5 separate regions of the Homo sapiens genome follow, and all the other regions are reported to be linked to region 1. Evidence: microRNA targets listed by miRTarBase, many of them from high-throughput screens and not tested one by one. Region 1 holds a microRNA gene; each other region holds the end of a gene's coding sequence.
The links. The annotated mature microRNA hsa-miR-891b reads UGCAACUUACCUGAGUCAUUGA and lies in region 1 at 1,623-1,644, shown strand. An mRNA with a match to its seed (bases 2 to 7 or 8) in the 3' UTR can be bound and repressed. Matches are read on the target gene's strand: a 7mer-m8 pairs with bases 2 to 8, a 7mer-A1 pairs with bases 2 to 7 and ends in A, and an 8mer does both.

Region 2: the mRNA of PTPRD is a reported target of hsa-miR-891b. Seed matches in the 3' UTR shown: 7mer-m8 at 1,656-1,662.
Region 3: the mRNA of GTF2H1 is a reported target of hsa-miR-891b. Seed matches in the 3' UTR shown: 8mer at 2,449-2,456.
Region 4: the mRNA of LACTB is a reported target of hsa-miR-891b. The part of its 3' UTR that is shown has no 7-base or 8-base seed match.
Region 5: the mRNA of ITGA2 is a reported target of hsa-miR-891b. Seed matches in the 3' UTR shown: 7mer-m8 at 2,137-2,143.

The regions. Positions count from the first base shown.
Region 1 is chrX:145,998,115-146,002,743 of GRCh38, reverse strand. It overlaps MIR891B (microRNA 891b), which reads left to right and starts at 1,613; the gene lies at 1,613-1,691.
Region 2 is chr9:8,315,339-8,318,338 of GRCh38, forward strand. PTPRD (protein tyrosine phosphatase receptor type D) reads right to left here. Exons shown (of 46, transcript NM_002839.4): 46 at 1-2,604. The coding sequence ends at 2,536. Among named protein-coding and RNA genes, the nearest start is that of DMAC1, 520 kb to the left of the region's middle.
Region 3 is chr11:18,365,552-18,368,551 of GRCh38, reverse strand. GTF2H1 (general transcription factor IIH subunit 1) reads right to left here. Exons shown (of 15, transcript NM_005316.4): 15 at 1,507-2,769. The coding sequence ends at 2,683. Among named protein-coding and RNA genes, the nearest start is that of MIR3159, 21 kb to the left of the region's middle.
Region 4 is chr15:63,141,479-63,144,478 of GRCh38, reverse strand. LACTB (lactamase beta) reads right to left here. Exons shown (of 6, transcript NM_032857.5): 6 at 2,418-3,000. The coding sequence ends at 2,674. Among named protein-coding and RNA genes, the nearest start is that of RPS27L, 14 kb to the left of the region's middle.
Region 5 is chr5:53,090,267-53,093,266 of GRCh38, reverse strand. It overlaps ITGA2 (integrin subunit alpha 2), which reads right to left. Exons shown (of 30, transcript NM_002203.4): 30 at 1-2,748. The coding sequence ends at 2,668. Among named protein-coding and RNA genes, the nearest start is that of MOCS2, 18 kb to the left of the region's middle.

The sequences.
Region 1 (4,629 bases):
TTTTTTTTTTTTTTGAGACGGAGTTTCACTCATGTCACCCAGGCTGGAGTGCAATGGTGCGATCTCGGCTCACTGCAACCTCTAGCTCCAGGTTCTAGGGATTCTCCTGCCTCAGCCTCCCGAGTAGCTGGGATTACAGGCACCCGCAACCATACTCAGCTAATGTTTGTTTTTTTAGTAGACACAGGGTTTCACCGTATCGGCCACTCTCAAACTTCTGACCTCAGGTGGTCCACCCACCTCGGCCACCCAAAATGCTGGGATTATAGGTGTGAGCCACCACGCCTGGCCCTTAGTCGTTTAAAATTAAGAAAAATACTTATCCAAGCAAACCTATGTTATGTCTAATAAAGGAAACCAAATAGTTTTGTGTCTATATGTGTGAAAACTTTATTTATCCTACCAATTTTTGATTGATTTCTGTTTTGAATACAATCTTATTTTTGCTGTATGATTGTGGCTGGAAAACAGGCAAAATAACTTTGTCATTTTTTGTCTTTTATTCTTGCCTCATTTCCTTAGCTGTCAACCAGTTCTCTTCATTTTTCAGATAATTCCATAAAGATAACAACCTCCCTCTGTATAATGAATTGCAGTATTTAATAAATAGCCTGCATAATCAGAGTTGTTAAGTCACCAAGAGTTACTTCTAATTGTAGAACTCACCTATCACATCATGAGTTTTATGAACTGTCAGCTCAATATGGGTTTTCCAGCCATTTGCTTCATTTAACATGTCATATCAGCCACCAGTTATTTTTGGAAACTGAATTTGTAAGCCATGATTACCTTGTGTTGATTATTATTATGTAACTGTTAAGAATACCATTTAGGAACTCCTGTGGTAGATTCTCCACATATTTTTCTTTGTATAACTTTTTATTCATATCTTTGATCTGCATTAGAAAATAAGCATTAGAAGAATTTTATCATAGTTCTTTTAAAATAATATAAAGAGTGTTAGGTATGGACAGGCAATGAACTAGAAATGAACAATACAGGACTTACTCATTATTAATGTGGATAAAGTCTGAGTTACATAATCCCTTCAATTTCGTGTATATGTGCTTTTGGGGACATTTTCTTATTTCTGCATGGATATCTGTGAATATATGTATATACATGTGTATATTTTTAGGGAATTTTAACTTTTGAACAAGTCTTCACACAATTATTGCTGGTGGTTTGAGGAAGGTTGTCATTCTTTTTAACCTGTCCTTTTTTCTTCCCACTTTAAACTATCTGTTAGTTGTCGCATTTTACATATTTGTGGGTGGGGAATCAGTGTCTATATATTTAGACTGAACTCAATACAGACAGCCTCATTCTGTACCATAATCTGTGATTTGCAAATTTTGAGACGTCACAATTATAATGGATTGGTAGAGCTTTACTGCCAGCCCTTTCAAGATTTTCATCCTCCAACTGCAGCACCGGTAAATTATTACTAATAGAAATGAGAAAGAAAATATACATGCTGATAGCTACATAGGTCGTGAATAGTAAATTAGTATGTCATTTATTTTAGGTATTAAATGTTTCATAGTCATACTATAATTACGTAGCTTCTTTGTTTCTTTGTAGGTCCCAAAAGAGTCTACAAATGTTGTCTCCTTAATCCTTGCAACTTACCTGAGTCATTGATTCAGTAAAACATTCAATGGCACATGTTTGTTGTTAGGGTCAAAAGAGATAATCCATCTAAAGGCCTCATGGACATTGCAAACCATGTAAGTCATCAGTTATGTAGCTACTGCTGCTTTTCCTTCACCTCCTTGTAGTGATACTGGTAGTAGAGTAGTCGTACTAGTAGAGACTATATTACTAGTACTTTGGTAAAAATAAGAGCATGTTCAATAAACACCTTTTATTAGGTCAGACTGGAGGACGTATAGCAGCAAGATGAATTTCTTCTTATTTTCTGTTTTTCTGAGGTTAATGTGGATGGTTTCTGTGAGGTTAACACTGCGTAGCAGTCTTAACTTAATGTTGTTCTATGATCACATGATTATCTGTGATTACTATGCTTATCTGTATATTTCTGGTTTTTTTCCATTTCCAAATGTATGTTCTACACATGTCCTCAATCACCATGACAAATCAAAACATTAGGATACTGTCTCTTTGGTACTGATTTGTCGTGTGTATGAAATGTGGAAATCCATATGAAAATCTGAACTACATATCTGCCAGACATGTAATCATTCAGCAGATTTTCCTGTTAGTACTACTGCAAGCAGTACTAATACTATAACTAATGGTATCAGTCCTAGTAACACTGCTATTACATTAGTACTAAGAAGCATATCATCAGTTATCACTCAAAGGATTTCATTGGTGGTTTTTCATATACATATTGTAATGTGTTCTGCTTTGTTCTGCTTTATTATTCATTTTACATATTTTTCTAGAATACTCTGTGGATATCTATGCCTGCAGAGATAATTTACTTGCAGTGCAAGCATTGAAGCCACTGCAAACACAGGTAAGGGGAAGTCAATGGTTGAAGATGACAGACTCCTGATTTTACTCATCCATGATTGCAAACTATAAAATATTATGTCCTTACCTGATTTCCTTACTTTAATTTGGTATAATTCTTGCACAGAAATGGTGAGTGGGACATTCTCATCTGGTTCCTGATCTCAGGCGTCAAGCATAAGAACGTTAACAATTAAGTCTTAATTTAGCTGTGTTTTTTCATAGATGCCATTCAAGCAATTGAGGATATACTCTGTGCTATGCCTGATTTGCTGTTATTATGTTTCAGATATGGATGTTAGATTTAGTCACATATCTCCCTGCATCTAGTGAGATGGTCTCTTTTTTCCATTTTAATCTGTTAATGTTGAAAATTGCCAGGCTTTGCCTGGGTTCCCATTCTCTGCACTGGAGTCGATATTCTCTCTCTGAGAAGTTGGCAGGAGAATGGATGGACTGTTCTAATGTGTCCCCTCTCTCACAGATCACTCTACAGTGTCTGAAGGCAAGCTTTTCTGTATATATCTGGGTTTTATGTTGTTTTAGACACCAGATAAATTTGGTCACTGTTCCTCCATCTGATCTGGAAACTGTAGTCTCCACTTACCAAATGGTAGGAGCCTGGAAATCCCTAGACATGTAGAGGCTTATGTACAAGAAGCTCATAATTTTTACATATTATCTATTCCTTACCACCTTACCTCTGATATGGCTCATTATTTTTGAGACCATTCCAGTTGTATGATTACAAGACTAGGATTTTAAAATAGTTTTCAGTAAAGCATTGCACCACCTAATTCATCTGGTAAGGGGTTTAAGTCCTTAGCAATCCTGAAGTCTCCTCTTGGAAGGGTTTGTATTTTCCAAGAACTGAGTATGCGGTTGGGCACTTCTACAAATCCATCTTTCTTTTTTGATAAAATTCTTATTTTTCTAATATTGATTGATGGCTAATGCTGACAGTTTGTGGAGGTATTTAGTGTAGTATCTCTTTGTTTTCTCCCAACCTTACTAATCTAGTGTTTTGGGTTTTTTTGGTTTTTTTTTTTTTTTGAGATGGAGTCTCGCTCTACCACCCAGGCTGGAGTGCAGTAGCCCATCTCTGCTCACTGCAAGCTCCGCCTCATGGGTTCACACCATTCTCCCACCACAGCCTCCTGTGTAGCTGGGACTACAGGCACCCGCCACCACGCCGGGCTAATTTTTTGTATTTTTTTTAGTAGAGACGGGGTTTCATCGTGTTAGCCAGGATGGTCTTGATCTCCTGACCTTGTGATCCGCCCACCTCAGCCTCCCAAAGTGCTGGGATTACAGGCGTGAGCCACCGCGCCTGGCCAAATCTAGTGGTTTTAATGTTTTAATCAATCTAGATAGACAGTGATATCTCCATTTTTAATGCATTGCTGTATTAAAGAAATTCTCATTCCACATCATCACAGTCAGTATGTCCCAAGCGAGGCACTTAGGAGAACTCTGCCTTCCCATCATAAATCTGAAAGTACCTGCTGCCAGCTGTTCCTGTATTGCTCTCTCATGCATCAGAATTATCAAGATCTCGGGACCATTTGGTGTAAAGAAAGACAGTTAATAGCGCTGGTGAATTATACGTGATAGAACTACCCACATACTTATAGATGGTTAAGTAGGTTGTAAATAGGAAATTTCATAGGTAATTTTTCTTCTCTAGATGTGCCTTTTATGTTGCCATAAGCATAATATCTCCTGTGTTATATTTGAGGATCCAAGCGTATCTTCACATGTTTTTTCATTAATCTTCATGACAAATCCGTGTCAGTATGTAAAAGATTGTGAGGACATATGAGAAGATTCACATAAAATTCCCAAGTACATTGATGTGGTGTAAGTGAGCATTTCAGAAATATAAATTATTGTTGTTGCTCTTGTCCTTTTATTTGTATTTACCTTTATTTTTTCACATAACTTATGAAATAAGGCAATGAAATATAAGGAGATACATAGTAGTCTCTGACTCCATGCCAACTGGTGTATTCAGTGCTTGTTCTTGCGTGGTAAACAGCTTATCATCATCTGTGTGAGATAAACATCCTAAGGCCAATGCAAGAAATAAATACTGGCACAACTGGGTCAAAATAGGCATCATTTTTCAGAAGTTTGCTCTCACAGCTT
Region 2 (3,000 bases), not on the chromosome of region 1:
GTTTCAGGGAGAGAAGCTGCTCATTGGCCAATCATTCTGGTGTGCAGTGCTCCATCGGATTCTACATGTCCAACAAGGCATGTCTGGATGATGCAATGTCTGTCTGACCCCCTTTGTTTAACTAAAAGAAAATTATAGCACTGAGTAATCTGGCACTTGGATAAATCTCCAAAAAGATACAAACTAAAAGAAAATAATGATAACAGACCCACATAGTGCACATTCTTCTCTGGTTCTGATGTAGGTTAGAGAGTCTCATTCTGAGGTAGCCTTCTAGATACTTTTTTTTAGTATTATATATATTTTCTTTTTTTTCTTTTTCTTTGTTTTTTACAAAAGTGCTCAAATACAATGCTTGCAAATGTTTGGTCTCTTGGATTTCACTCTGCTAGCAATGGGAAAATGTGGAAAACAAAAATCCTTCCATGCAGAACATCCATGAAGCTAAAATTAAACCAAAGTAGTATACTCATACCAAAACTCTTTAAGAGTTCCTTGGGTATTTTGAGGATTATTTAAAATCATGTAATATGTGGCAAACTTATGCCATCATCCATGGCTTCCTATAGAAATTCTGTTGGAAGAATTGGGGGTAAGATACATATATATATATAGTTTATTTCCCCTTTTAGAAAAATCCTAATGGAATATCAAATATATTCCAAAGTTGCCAATGATATTTGTTACTAAAATAAGTTTGGTGCAGTTACTGCATGTTCCAGAGCGGATTTGGAAGGGAATATAAATAAAACAAGTAGCTTTTTCTGATGTTGATGATTGATTATAAAAGGAAGAAGGGCCCTGATTATCCAAGTGCTTTGGGCTGGTACAATCACTAACATCCCCGACTTGGCTGAAAACTAGGAATGCATATTATTCAAAGAGTTTTTGTACATGTGGTAAACAGATAATGCTTTAATAGAAAGTAACAGATACGAACAGTGAATGGAAATACGAACCAAAAGCTAAAAAGAAATGCTATTAAAATAGGCATCAATTATAAGGCACTCTAAATGCAAAACTAAAACCAAAACGAAACAAAGTACAGCACTTCCCAGGAATGCTGTATGCCACAAAATGTTTCTGACTGAACAGAGTAACATGAATTTGGCTTTGCCCCTGTTACATATCATAAATGCAAATTTCATAGCACATACTATAGACAATATACGATTGAATACACTTTTTTTAAACAACTCGATAGCTGATATATTACAACATTCTCCCCTCCTAAAGGGATATGCACTGACCTTTCCCACATGCACACCTCTTAGCTATTTAATAATAATTTTTATTGCACTAGAGTGTTAGAAATATTGAACTTTGTTGGAAGCCTGACTAACAAACAAACAAAACAATTTGTGGATGTGATTGATTGGTTAGGTGGGGGTAGATTAGGTAGGAAATCAGGGGGTGAGGTTTGACAATCAATCACTGATGTGCATTCCTCATTTCCCTTTAAAGAAATACCAATATGTCAAAAAATTAAGAATAAATGGAAAGAGATGTTTACAATAGCTTTTCTACGTTTAAAAAAACTAAATCATGGAAGAACTGACTGACTGATAACTGTATCTATTTTTTGTGTGGACACACTGTCTATATATACATAGACACCCTTATAAAATATGGATATATATGTATATATGTTAGCAGCAACTTTATACTTTGCGCCTCCCTGTTGATTCCAAAAACAAAACAAAATAATAATTATCTTTGATTATTTGAAGAGAATGGGTACTTTCTCACCAATCAAAACTGAAGTGTAAAATTAATATATCTGACGAGACTGATACTGTAGATTGAGTTTTGCACAAAAATGTGCAAATTTTCAAATGATTTGATATTTCTACAGCAAGATATTACAGATAACAGTTCTACAGCTTAAAAAAACCTACGATTTGGAAATAAAAAAATGAAGAGTTATGTAACTTTTTTAAAATTCACTTTATCGAATGATACATTTTGTTAAAAAAAAGTTTACACAGTTAGAAATGAAGCACAGGTCAGCAGTATCTTTACAATACTAAAAAACTAAATCAAGGACTTTCTTTTTAAACATTCCCTCCCCTTTCCCCCTAAAATGTTATTATGAGCAGTATGGTGGGAAGGGGCGATGTCAAAGCAGAGTCCGTTTCATTGTGAGAAGCCACACCAGCACATATCTTGTGCTGAACTGCAGCATTCTGGCAATTTCTCCTTGCACCTTTCAAGCAATCCTGAATAAGATGGTGGTTCTTTGCTGTGATTTCTTCTTCCCTTGATTTTGAATCCTTGAGGTATCTGTAAATAAAATCCTTCAGATGCCTCATCAGTCAGGATTCTCTTCATTATTTTTCAGGTTAGATTATTAAACTGTGAATTCTTGGTCCACCTGGAATAATTTGTTTTTAATTTGTTTTGTGTGTAATAGTCCCACTAAGTAGTTGTTAGCTAGAAGTTAAGAAGGACTTCTCAAGTGCCCTGTATGGCTCAGAAGAGACTCCATGGATATTGAAGGGCCTGTAGTAAAAATCCAGAATGGGTCAGGGGTTTCTACGTTGCATAGTGGTCAAAGCTGCCCAGGTACTCTAGTGCGGCACGATAGGAAAACTGATATTGATCCTGCAGGAGACAATGAATGGGGAGAAGCAAAAGAAGGGACCATGAGCATATTTTAATAGAAAAATAAAAATCAATATTGCATAACAAAATAACATCTATATAGGGGCAAAATCACTACTTTCGTCAACTGGTCTAATCCAATGACCAATTGTTTATAGTGAACAAAGAAAAAGCCACATGGGGTGTTGATTAACTTTGCCAATCAATTTGACTAAAACGATCTCCCAATTCCAAGCAGTGGCAGGTCGAGTGAACATTACCTTCCCAGACAAGTGTTTTCCAAGTAGTATCAAACCATTACCACCAATTGAACACATAAACTTCTTACATGCCTTATAAGCAGATAATGATGAAAATCATCCTTTACAATTATCTGCTTATTCAAGATAACTAATT
Region 3 (3,000 bases), not on the chromosome of region 1:
CCGCAAGAAGGTGAAGGGCCATAAAAGGCCTATACAGCTGCTGAAGTTCATTGCTAAAGGTATCCAAGGCTCAAATATTTCAAGTGCAAGCTAGACATGAAATTCACAGCTATCTCTGTGAATCACCCTTGATTCCTTCACTCCCTGTGAGTTAGTCACATACACTGTAGAAATGCTGTTACTCAGGCCCTTCCTATTTACCAGGACTTCATTTTAATGTAGACGCTTTCCTGTGTGGTTTGTTCAGAAAGTCTTCTAAATCTGTCCTAATTGCCAAGTTATTTAACCCCTGCCTAACCCCCCACCACCAGAAAACCCCCCCATAAAAGCAACTTGCTTAAAACTTTCTCTCAAGTCTCCCATGCCTAGTAGGTAAGGTCTGAGTATTTTACTTTAGCATACAAGGCCATTCACAACCTGAATTAACATGGTTTTCTGAGCCTTACTTGTCACTTCCAACTCTCCAATCTAACACATCTTTCCTGTTCTTCTAACATATTTCAGTCTTTCAAACCTTCTCATCATCATGCTCTTCCCTCAGTCTAGAAGAGATGACTTTCTTCTCTACCTCACAAAATCCTACTCAACCTTCAAGACTTAGCTAAAACGCTCTTTTAAATGAAGTCTTTCCTTCAGGCTTTATATATATATATATATATATATATATATATTTTTTTTTTTTTTTTTTTTTTTTTTGAGACAGGGCTTTGTCTTACTGTCCAGGCTGTAGTGCAGTGGTGTGATCATAGCTCATTGCAGCCTCAATCTCCTGGGCTCATGCAATCCTCCCGCCTCGGCCTCCAGAGCAGCTGGAACTACAAGCACATACCACCACGCCCAGCTAACTTTTTTTACTTTTAGTAGAGATGAGGTTTTGCTATGTTGCCCAGGCTGGTCTTGAATTCCTGAGCTCAAGTGATCCTCTTGCCTTGGCCTCCCAAAGTGCTGGATTACAGGTATGACTCACCATGCCCAGCTTACAACTTAATTTTCAACACAGCACTCAACAGAACATTCTATTTCTTATGTCTGCCTTGCCCAATAGCCACTTTTTTTTATTTCAATCATTTTTCTATTTGCCCCACTGTAGCAGTAACACATTTGAAAGTACTTTGTGAAAGTGTAAATTTTAAGGGATTATACCAGTACATATACTGATCTGAAAGAGAAATGGGAAGACTGAAGGCAGAAAATGATGTGGCTTCTTTCCCTTTACCAGTTCAAGGTCTTCATAAATTTTTCTTTTTTTTTCTGTAAAAAAAGAGATGGAGTCTCACTATGTTGCTCAGTCTGGACTTTTGAACTTCTGGGCTCAAGTGATCCTCCTACCTCAGCCTCCCAAGTAGCTGGAACTACAGGCATGTGCTACCATGCCTGGCTTAGATTCTGACCTTAGCAGTCATTATATGAAGGATAACCAGTTTGTAACATGGCCTAAAATAAAATGAACAGTTCTCAGGCAGCCCACCCAAGGAAATTCACACATAATGAGAAACCAGAGATGTGTTAGAGTTAAAAGGGTAAGTATAAAAAGTTTTACTTTTTTTGTGTAATTTTTAATACAAGACATCTAAAGTCTTAAACATTAAGTTGATCCCATCAGGAACAAAATATGGCACGAAGTTCAGAAACAAGAACATCTTTTTTTTTTTTTTTTGCACTTAGGCTTTTCAGTCACTATGCAATGATTATCGATTCGCCAAGGACAGTAACAGTCAAATACTAGAGAAAAGGAGATAGGAGAAACATCTTTTATTTCTTCTAAAGAGGTGAAAATAAGATTTTTTTAATATTTCTCACTCATAAGATTTTTAAACTCTTAAAAATGCAATATCTTCTTTTCAAAGCACATGCCATCTTAAAAAAATCTTAGCAATGTACATTTGCACTCAAAGAAAAACATGCAGCGCCATTGTCTTCTGACAAAATTCTGCATTAAAAAACCCTATGCGACTTTCTGCAAATATATTCCCTCTTTATTATTCAGGGACTCCAAACCACAAACATTCAGTGCAATATTTATCGTTTCTTATTTCCGTAGGAAACACAGAACCAATGATGTCTTCTGACAACTGTTTCCTGATGGTTGAGCAACAGTCTCCCTTTGCTTTATTTTAAAGTACTTTTTTTAACTTGCTGATGTAAGGTATAATTGGAATTCATTAAAACTTGAGGATCCAATGGAGGGTGAAGAATGAAGGATGGAGGAGGAATACTTAAGGTCTACCCTGTGCCATAAACTTAGGAAAAAAATGTACACAGAAAAAAACGACAACCAAAAAACCTCAGATTTTATCAATGCACCCTTTAAAAAGTGTTTTTTTAATTTCTGAAAGCAGCTTAATGTGAATCAAAAGCAGTTCCTGAGCAACTGCAGTAAACAGTCTTTTAAAATATATATGTACATACACATGTACATATATGTGTGTGTGTGTATATATATATATTTGCAACTTAGCTCATTTGGTTCTGTCTTAATTTACCTCCCCAGCATTTAGTCCCTTCTTTCCTTTCAGTCTCCAATGTGCAAGTACAATAGCATCAGCTCTGGGAGTTGGCGTGGAGCAGATGTTTCTTATCACTCCTGTGAGGTCATCTGCTTGTCTGTCAGGCCAGGTTTCCAGAGTTGCTGCAGGTCATAGTTCTCTCAATCTCACAAAACCTGTAAGCATCATGGCCACCTCACGTTTTCTTCATCAGACGCCGTGACTGCCATGTGTGGAGCTTGTTGTAGGCTGTCTGGAGCATCTCTTCTATGTGACTTACCAACTGAAAAACACAGCAAGACACTTAACAACTGGGCAAAAGCAGGGGAAGTTAATCCTTCCAACCCAAATCTGGCACACACTTCAGAGTGTAGTTTCGGAGCTCCTCTGTATTTCCCCAGTCAATGAGGTAATGTGCAAGCCCTCTGAGAAGGTGCTGTCAGACACATTTTGTGTGGAAAGGAAAGACAGAAAGTAGGGGGCAGTGAAAAGGCTGCGGTTGTAATGGCTGTCC
Region 4 (3,000 bases), not on the chromosome of region 1:
GTAAAGAATTAATAATTGATGGTTTAAAAAATTCCCAGACTCTTCAGATTGCAAATGATGCCAAAATTAAGAAATGGCTTCAAGGCAAAGATAATAATTGAGGGCACTTCCAGGAAAACATAGTCTAAAGATGATATTGAGGGCATGACTATACAATCCTTTCTCAAGACTTCAAAATGAATCAACATGGTGCTTCAGAGAACTATTTAAACAATAGAGTTCATTAGATTATTAGCGTAATTAGTTCTTCCCATTATCTTGGCAGAGACAAGCCCCAAGTTAGAGAGGGGATATTCTGAAGGGACTTTGGGGTGGCTTTTGTCTACTGGCATAAACCCCAATAAAATTCACAGGATACTCTTAACATTTTAAAATATTATATTGTCAGTTAATAGGGTTGCTAAAAAAAATTCAAAAATTAGAGAAATAAAATATTATATTGGCAGAACCACTGTTAACTTAGATGGAAAGGAAAGAGAGTATAAAAAGGCCTTTGGGTCTCCAAACTTCTACAAGTGGAAAGCACACTGAGAAAACCACTCAGCTAGAAAGATACGCTACCTTTCATGAAAAAAAGGTATGGGGAAGCGGCCAGGCTTAGTGGCTCACGCCTGTAATCCCAGCACTTTGGGAGGCCGAGGGGGGCGGATCACCTGAGGTCAGGAGTTCGAGACCAGCCTGGCCAACATGGTGAAACGCTGTCTCTACTAAAAATACAAAAATTAGTCGGGAGTGGTGGCACGCACCTGTAATCCCAGCTACTCGAGAGGCTGAGGTGGGAGAATTGCTTGAACCCAGGAGGCTAAGGCTGCAGTGAGCCGAGATTGTGCCACTGTACTCCAGCCTGGGTGACAGAGGGAAACCCTGTCTCAAAAAAAAAAAAAAAAAAGTAAAAAAGAACAATTAAAAAAAGTATAACTCAGGGGCTGGGTGCGGTGGCTCATGCCTATAATCCCAGCACTTTGGGAGGCTGAGGTGGGTGGATCACTTGAGCCCAGTAGTTGAAGACCAGCCTGGGAAATATGGTGAACAGCTGTCTCTTAAAAAAAAGAAAAAGTATAACTCGTAAGGTAGAACTAAGAGCCCAGAGAACATAGCCAAGAACTAAGAATTATTCTGAAGCCTTGAATACTAATCAGAGTTGCCAACCTCTGTCTGACTGAATTTCAGAATTGCCAGTCTCCTGTATGTCTTCCACTTCCCTACTTTTTGAAGAGGACGGTATCTAGCAATTATCCTATATCTGCTGTGCTACGGTATGTTACACATATGGGGAGCAAATAACTACAGTTCACAGGTCTTAAGAGAAACTACTTGAGTTGCTGTACCTAAGGAACTCATCCCAAGGAGCCCTCATTCACACTTGCACCTGACCTGATTTAGATGATAAGATACTGGGCTTTGAGCTGATGCTATATTAAGGTGAAACTTCTGGAGGATTTGAAAGGAGGTAAGAGTATTTTGCATTGGGAAGGACATAAATCATTGGGGACCAGAGGTCAGACTGTGGTACCCAACTTCCAAGTTGACACCCAGTGATTCCTGCCTCCTAATATTCACAATGTATATAATCTCTTCAACATTTATTAGGCCCCATGTAACCCATGGAATTTGGCAAATGTGATGGTATGTGACTTGAGGCTAGTTTATAAAAGAGTGACTTCTGCCTGGCACTCTCTGTCTCATCACTTACTCTGCGGGAAGCCAACTACCATAAGATACTCAAGCAGCCCTACAGAGAGGTCCATGTGGTGACAAACTGAGTCCCCTTGCCACCCACCAGCCAGAGAACTGACTCTTGCCAGCAGTCATGCAAGTAAGCCATGTGGAAGCATTTCCTCCAGCCCTGGAGAATTCTTCAGATGATCATAACACCTTGTCTGCAACCTCATTAGAGACCGCGCCAGACCCACGTGACTATATTGCTCCTGATTTCCCGATTCCTTCTCTGAACGTTTCTTTTAAGCTGTAGTGGATAACTAATATACCATTTCTCATGCTTTTGTTTCTGCTCTCATATTAAAAGGATATTTGGGCTGGGCACAGTGTCTCACGCCTGTAATCCCCAGCACTTTGGCAGGCTGAGGCGGATGGATCACCTGAGATCAAGAGTTCGAGACCAGCCTGGCCAACATGGCGAAATGCTGTCTCTATTAAAAATTCAAAAAGTGGCTGGGCATGGTGGTGGGTGCCTGTAATCCCAGCTACTTGGGAGGCTGAGGCAGGAGAATCGCTTGAACTCAGGAAGCAGAGGTTGTGGTGAGCCAAGATCACACCACTGCACTCCAGGCTGGGTAACACAGCAAGAGTCCATTTCAAAAAAAAAAAAAAAAAAAAAAGAAAAGAAAAAAAACCTCGGATATTTGGAGGCTCCTGTTGAATGAGATTTTCTCTGTATTACACATGCAGAAAGTACATATTTTATCAGAATATTTTATTTCAAGAGTTAACACTTTTTTCAAAAAGTAAAAACAATATAATTACTTCCCTGAGTATAAAGAACCAATTCTACAATAAAAGACCATTACAAAATTAAGCAATTAGAGGTACATAATTCTCTGCATTCAGTTATACTCTATTTCAAATTTATTCTTAAAAATGTCATGTTTTGGAACTTTAATGTTTCAAAAAAACCTCAGAACAACTCATTTTGCACCTATGGTGTTAAGGTTATCAGTCTGATCTGTCTTTATCAAATTCAAGGGCAATCTTCAAAGCGGTGCTATTGAGGCCAACAGATTGCATGTTACATATGATAGAAACAATGATTCCTCTTGGGGGAACCTTGTTATTTATAGTCTCTGTATCCAGTTCTTCAGGAAGGACCAGCAGGACACTACTGGCACCCACTGCCCCTCCAGTATGTGAAGCATAATGCCGTTGCTTTCTACACGAACCATACGTTTGTTTCCTTTCCACAACACCCCACGCCATTGCATATTTACCCTCTTTATCCCAAGACATCTCTGTGTTAGGGACTGGGGTCCACATCATAACCAT
Region 5 (3,000 bases), not on the chromosome of region 1:
TTCAAGTTCCGTATATGTATGTTTAGCACTTATTTAAGGAAGTACTCACCTAAAGGAGGTGAGACAGAGTAAAAGGAAGGATGTGCTATAATTGTTTGTATAGCACATTGAAAAGCTAGTATTTACATATACAGTACTAACTTTTTTTTTGTTTGTTTGTTTGAGACAGAGTCTTGCCCTGTCACCCAGGCTGGAGTGCAGTGGCGCGATCTCGGCTCACTGAAACCTCTGCCTCCCGGGTTCAAGTGATTCTCCTGCCTCAGCTTCCCGAGTAACTGGGATTACAGGCACCTGCTACTACGCCCAGCTAATTTTTATATTATTAGAGATGGGGTTTCACCATGTTGGCCAGGCTAGTCTCAAACTCCTGACCTCGTGATCCACCGGCCTCAGCCTCCCAAAGTGTTGGGATTACAGGTGTGAGCCACCGTGCCTGGCCACATTGTCTTTTTAAATAGTCATTTTTTTGAGACAGGGTCTTGCTATGTTGCTTAGGCTGGACTTGAACTCCTGGGCTCAAGCGATCTTCCTGTCTCAGTCTCTCAAGTAGCTGGAGCTTCAGGTACACACCAGCACCACTAGCTGTTAAATATTCTTTATCAAGCTAATGACTAGTTTCTCCAGTCTTTTTTTTTTTTTTTTAAATAAAATTTTGTTGGAATGAAGCAGCAAATTCTCACAGCTGTTAAAAGAATTGGACTCTGGCATACCTAACTGGAGAATACCATGCTGTTTTTTCTATAAACCGCTGGCATTTTATGCCTTTTTTGTTTGTTTTGTGTTGTCAACTACAAAGTAATTCTGTAAACAGTACAGATAGCCCTGGACTGCCACCACGGGCCAGGCCAGGGTAGTCAAGGTTGTCCATATGCACATGGGCAGATAACCTGTTTTCCTTTGACATTTTTTTCCAAGTCAAATTCTTGGAGGATTGTGTATTTGTATTATAGGAAGTCCAGATCATAGACTTTTAAAACTAAAAGCATCACTGCTGAACTCCAGCTCAGTCTTCCCATTTTATAATGAGGACTCTGAAGTTTATAGAGGTCAAGGACTTGTCCAAAGCTTTAGATATGTAGTGTCTGTGCCCTTTTCCTCTAAGTTTCTCCTAGAGAATGTGGGGGCTCAGGAACAGAGAAAATAAGGTGCAAAAAGTAGAAATGGGTGGTGTTTCTCAAAGTGTGGTCCATCTGCATCCTAGTGACTGGGGTGCTTGTTAAAATGCAGATTGCTGGGCCTTATCCCAATCTGACCAAATCATCTCAGGATCTACCTTTTGAACAAACTTGCCTAGGTCAAATTCACTCTTGTGGAAGTTTAAGTACTTCAGAAACAAGACAGCCACAGAAGGTGCACCTGCTAATTTGGTGGCTTCCAGTGCCTCATCTGTAACTTCTGGTGAAATCCTGAGATGTCTTACTTTACATTGTTTACATCCCATAACATTCCAACATTTAGAAATTCACTCGAGCTTATTTTTCTTACTTGTTTAGCACTAAATGAAAATAGCTCCCTGAAGTTAAGGAGTTTATATACAGTAATTCATGCAAGTGTGTAAATTAAACAGATGACTTTCCCCCCTAATATCTAATGCACAGCAGCTGTCCTGAAGGAGTGGGAACTTTGGATGAGGGGTAAAGGAGGGGATAACTTTGGACCGCTGGAGAGAAAGTCAGGCTGTAGAGGGCTTCTATAATAATGGTACCACCAGGAGGTGGGAGAGTGGTTCAGTAAGGGAGGAGGAAGGTTGCCAAAGAAATTACTCATCTTTCAGAAATTCACTAGGTTACTGCCAGTCAGCCAAACAAATCCTAGAAGAGAACTGTTGTGCCTCCTAAAAGAGAAAGGAAATTTCCTCCTTTTCCTTCCTCTGGCACAGGATGGGCTTCTAGCAGATGGGATTTTACATGTTATATTCTGAGTTTTAAACAAAATTTTGTGCCTTATTCTCTATATCGCCCCCTCTCCTAACTTAAATGGACATATAGGAGGTATACTCTAAGCTCAGTTATTCAAGCATGTTTTGATCATTAGAGCAAGATGGGGTGTGGAAGGGGCAGCCGTGGTCTAAAAGGAACCAACAACAAATTTTACCTAGTTTATAAATAAAATTATCACTTGGAAGTATCATCTGTGGCAACTTTGGATGAGCAGCATAAATTGAAAAAACCTGTGTTTTGTTTTCCCCTCTTGTTAACATCAATATTCATTAAAATATACACAAGTGGAAGTACTTACATATCAAGCACTTCCACTTCTGTAGTTGCTGTTTAAAGACAAATATTTTAAAGAGAACAGTTTTCCCCCTTAAAATCTGAGAGTATCATATTTTTCTTTAAAAGTTGTCATGCTTGGAAGCATTTCATGTTTCTGACACAATGCAAATTAGAATGTAAACTCTGGGCCAGCCAGTTTAAAGATTACTTTTTTTCCCCCATCATATAAAATAGGTATTTTCCCTATTATTTCCCTACCTGCCCCCCGCACCTCCCCCACCCCCCACAATTTCTTCATTCCAAACTGACCTGCAGTTTTCTCTTAAAATACCAGGTTAGTTTACCTACGACATGATAAAAAAAATATGGGATTTAAAAAGAAATCCATTCACGCAAACAGCAAACCCTGGCTGGGATGCTGCCGGTTCCCACTGCAGGTAGGTCTGCTGGTTCAGCTACTGAGCTCTGTGGTCTCATCAATCTCATCTGGATTTTTGGTCATCTTTTCATATTTTCTTTTGAAGAAGCCGAGCTGTAAAGGTGATGATATAAGAATGTTACCACCCGTGGCTTATTTTGTAAGGTGCCTCTGACCCCCTTGGCTGCCCACGTCCTCTGATGCACCTCTGGGAATCCCTGAGGCTCTGAAGGGAGGTGTGCAGACTGATGACCTGATATCTACCACCTGCTAGAAGGAAATTTATATCCAGAGAGCTCAGCTGCATTGCATAAAGCTACATTTTTCAGCGTCTACTTATTTGAAGCTGAACAAAACATTCAGGGC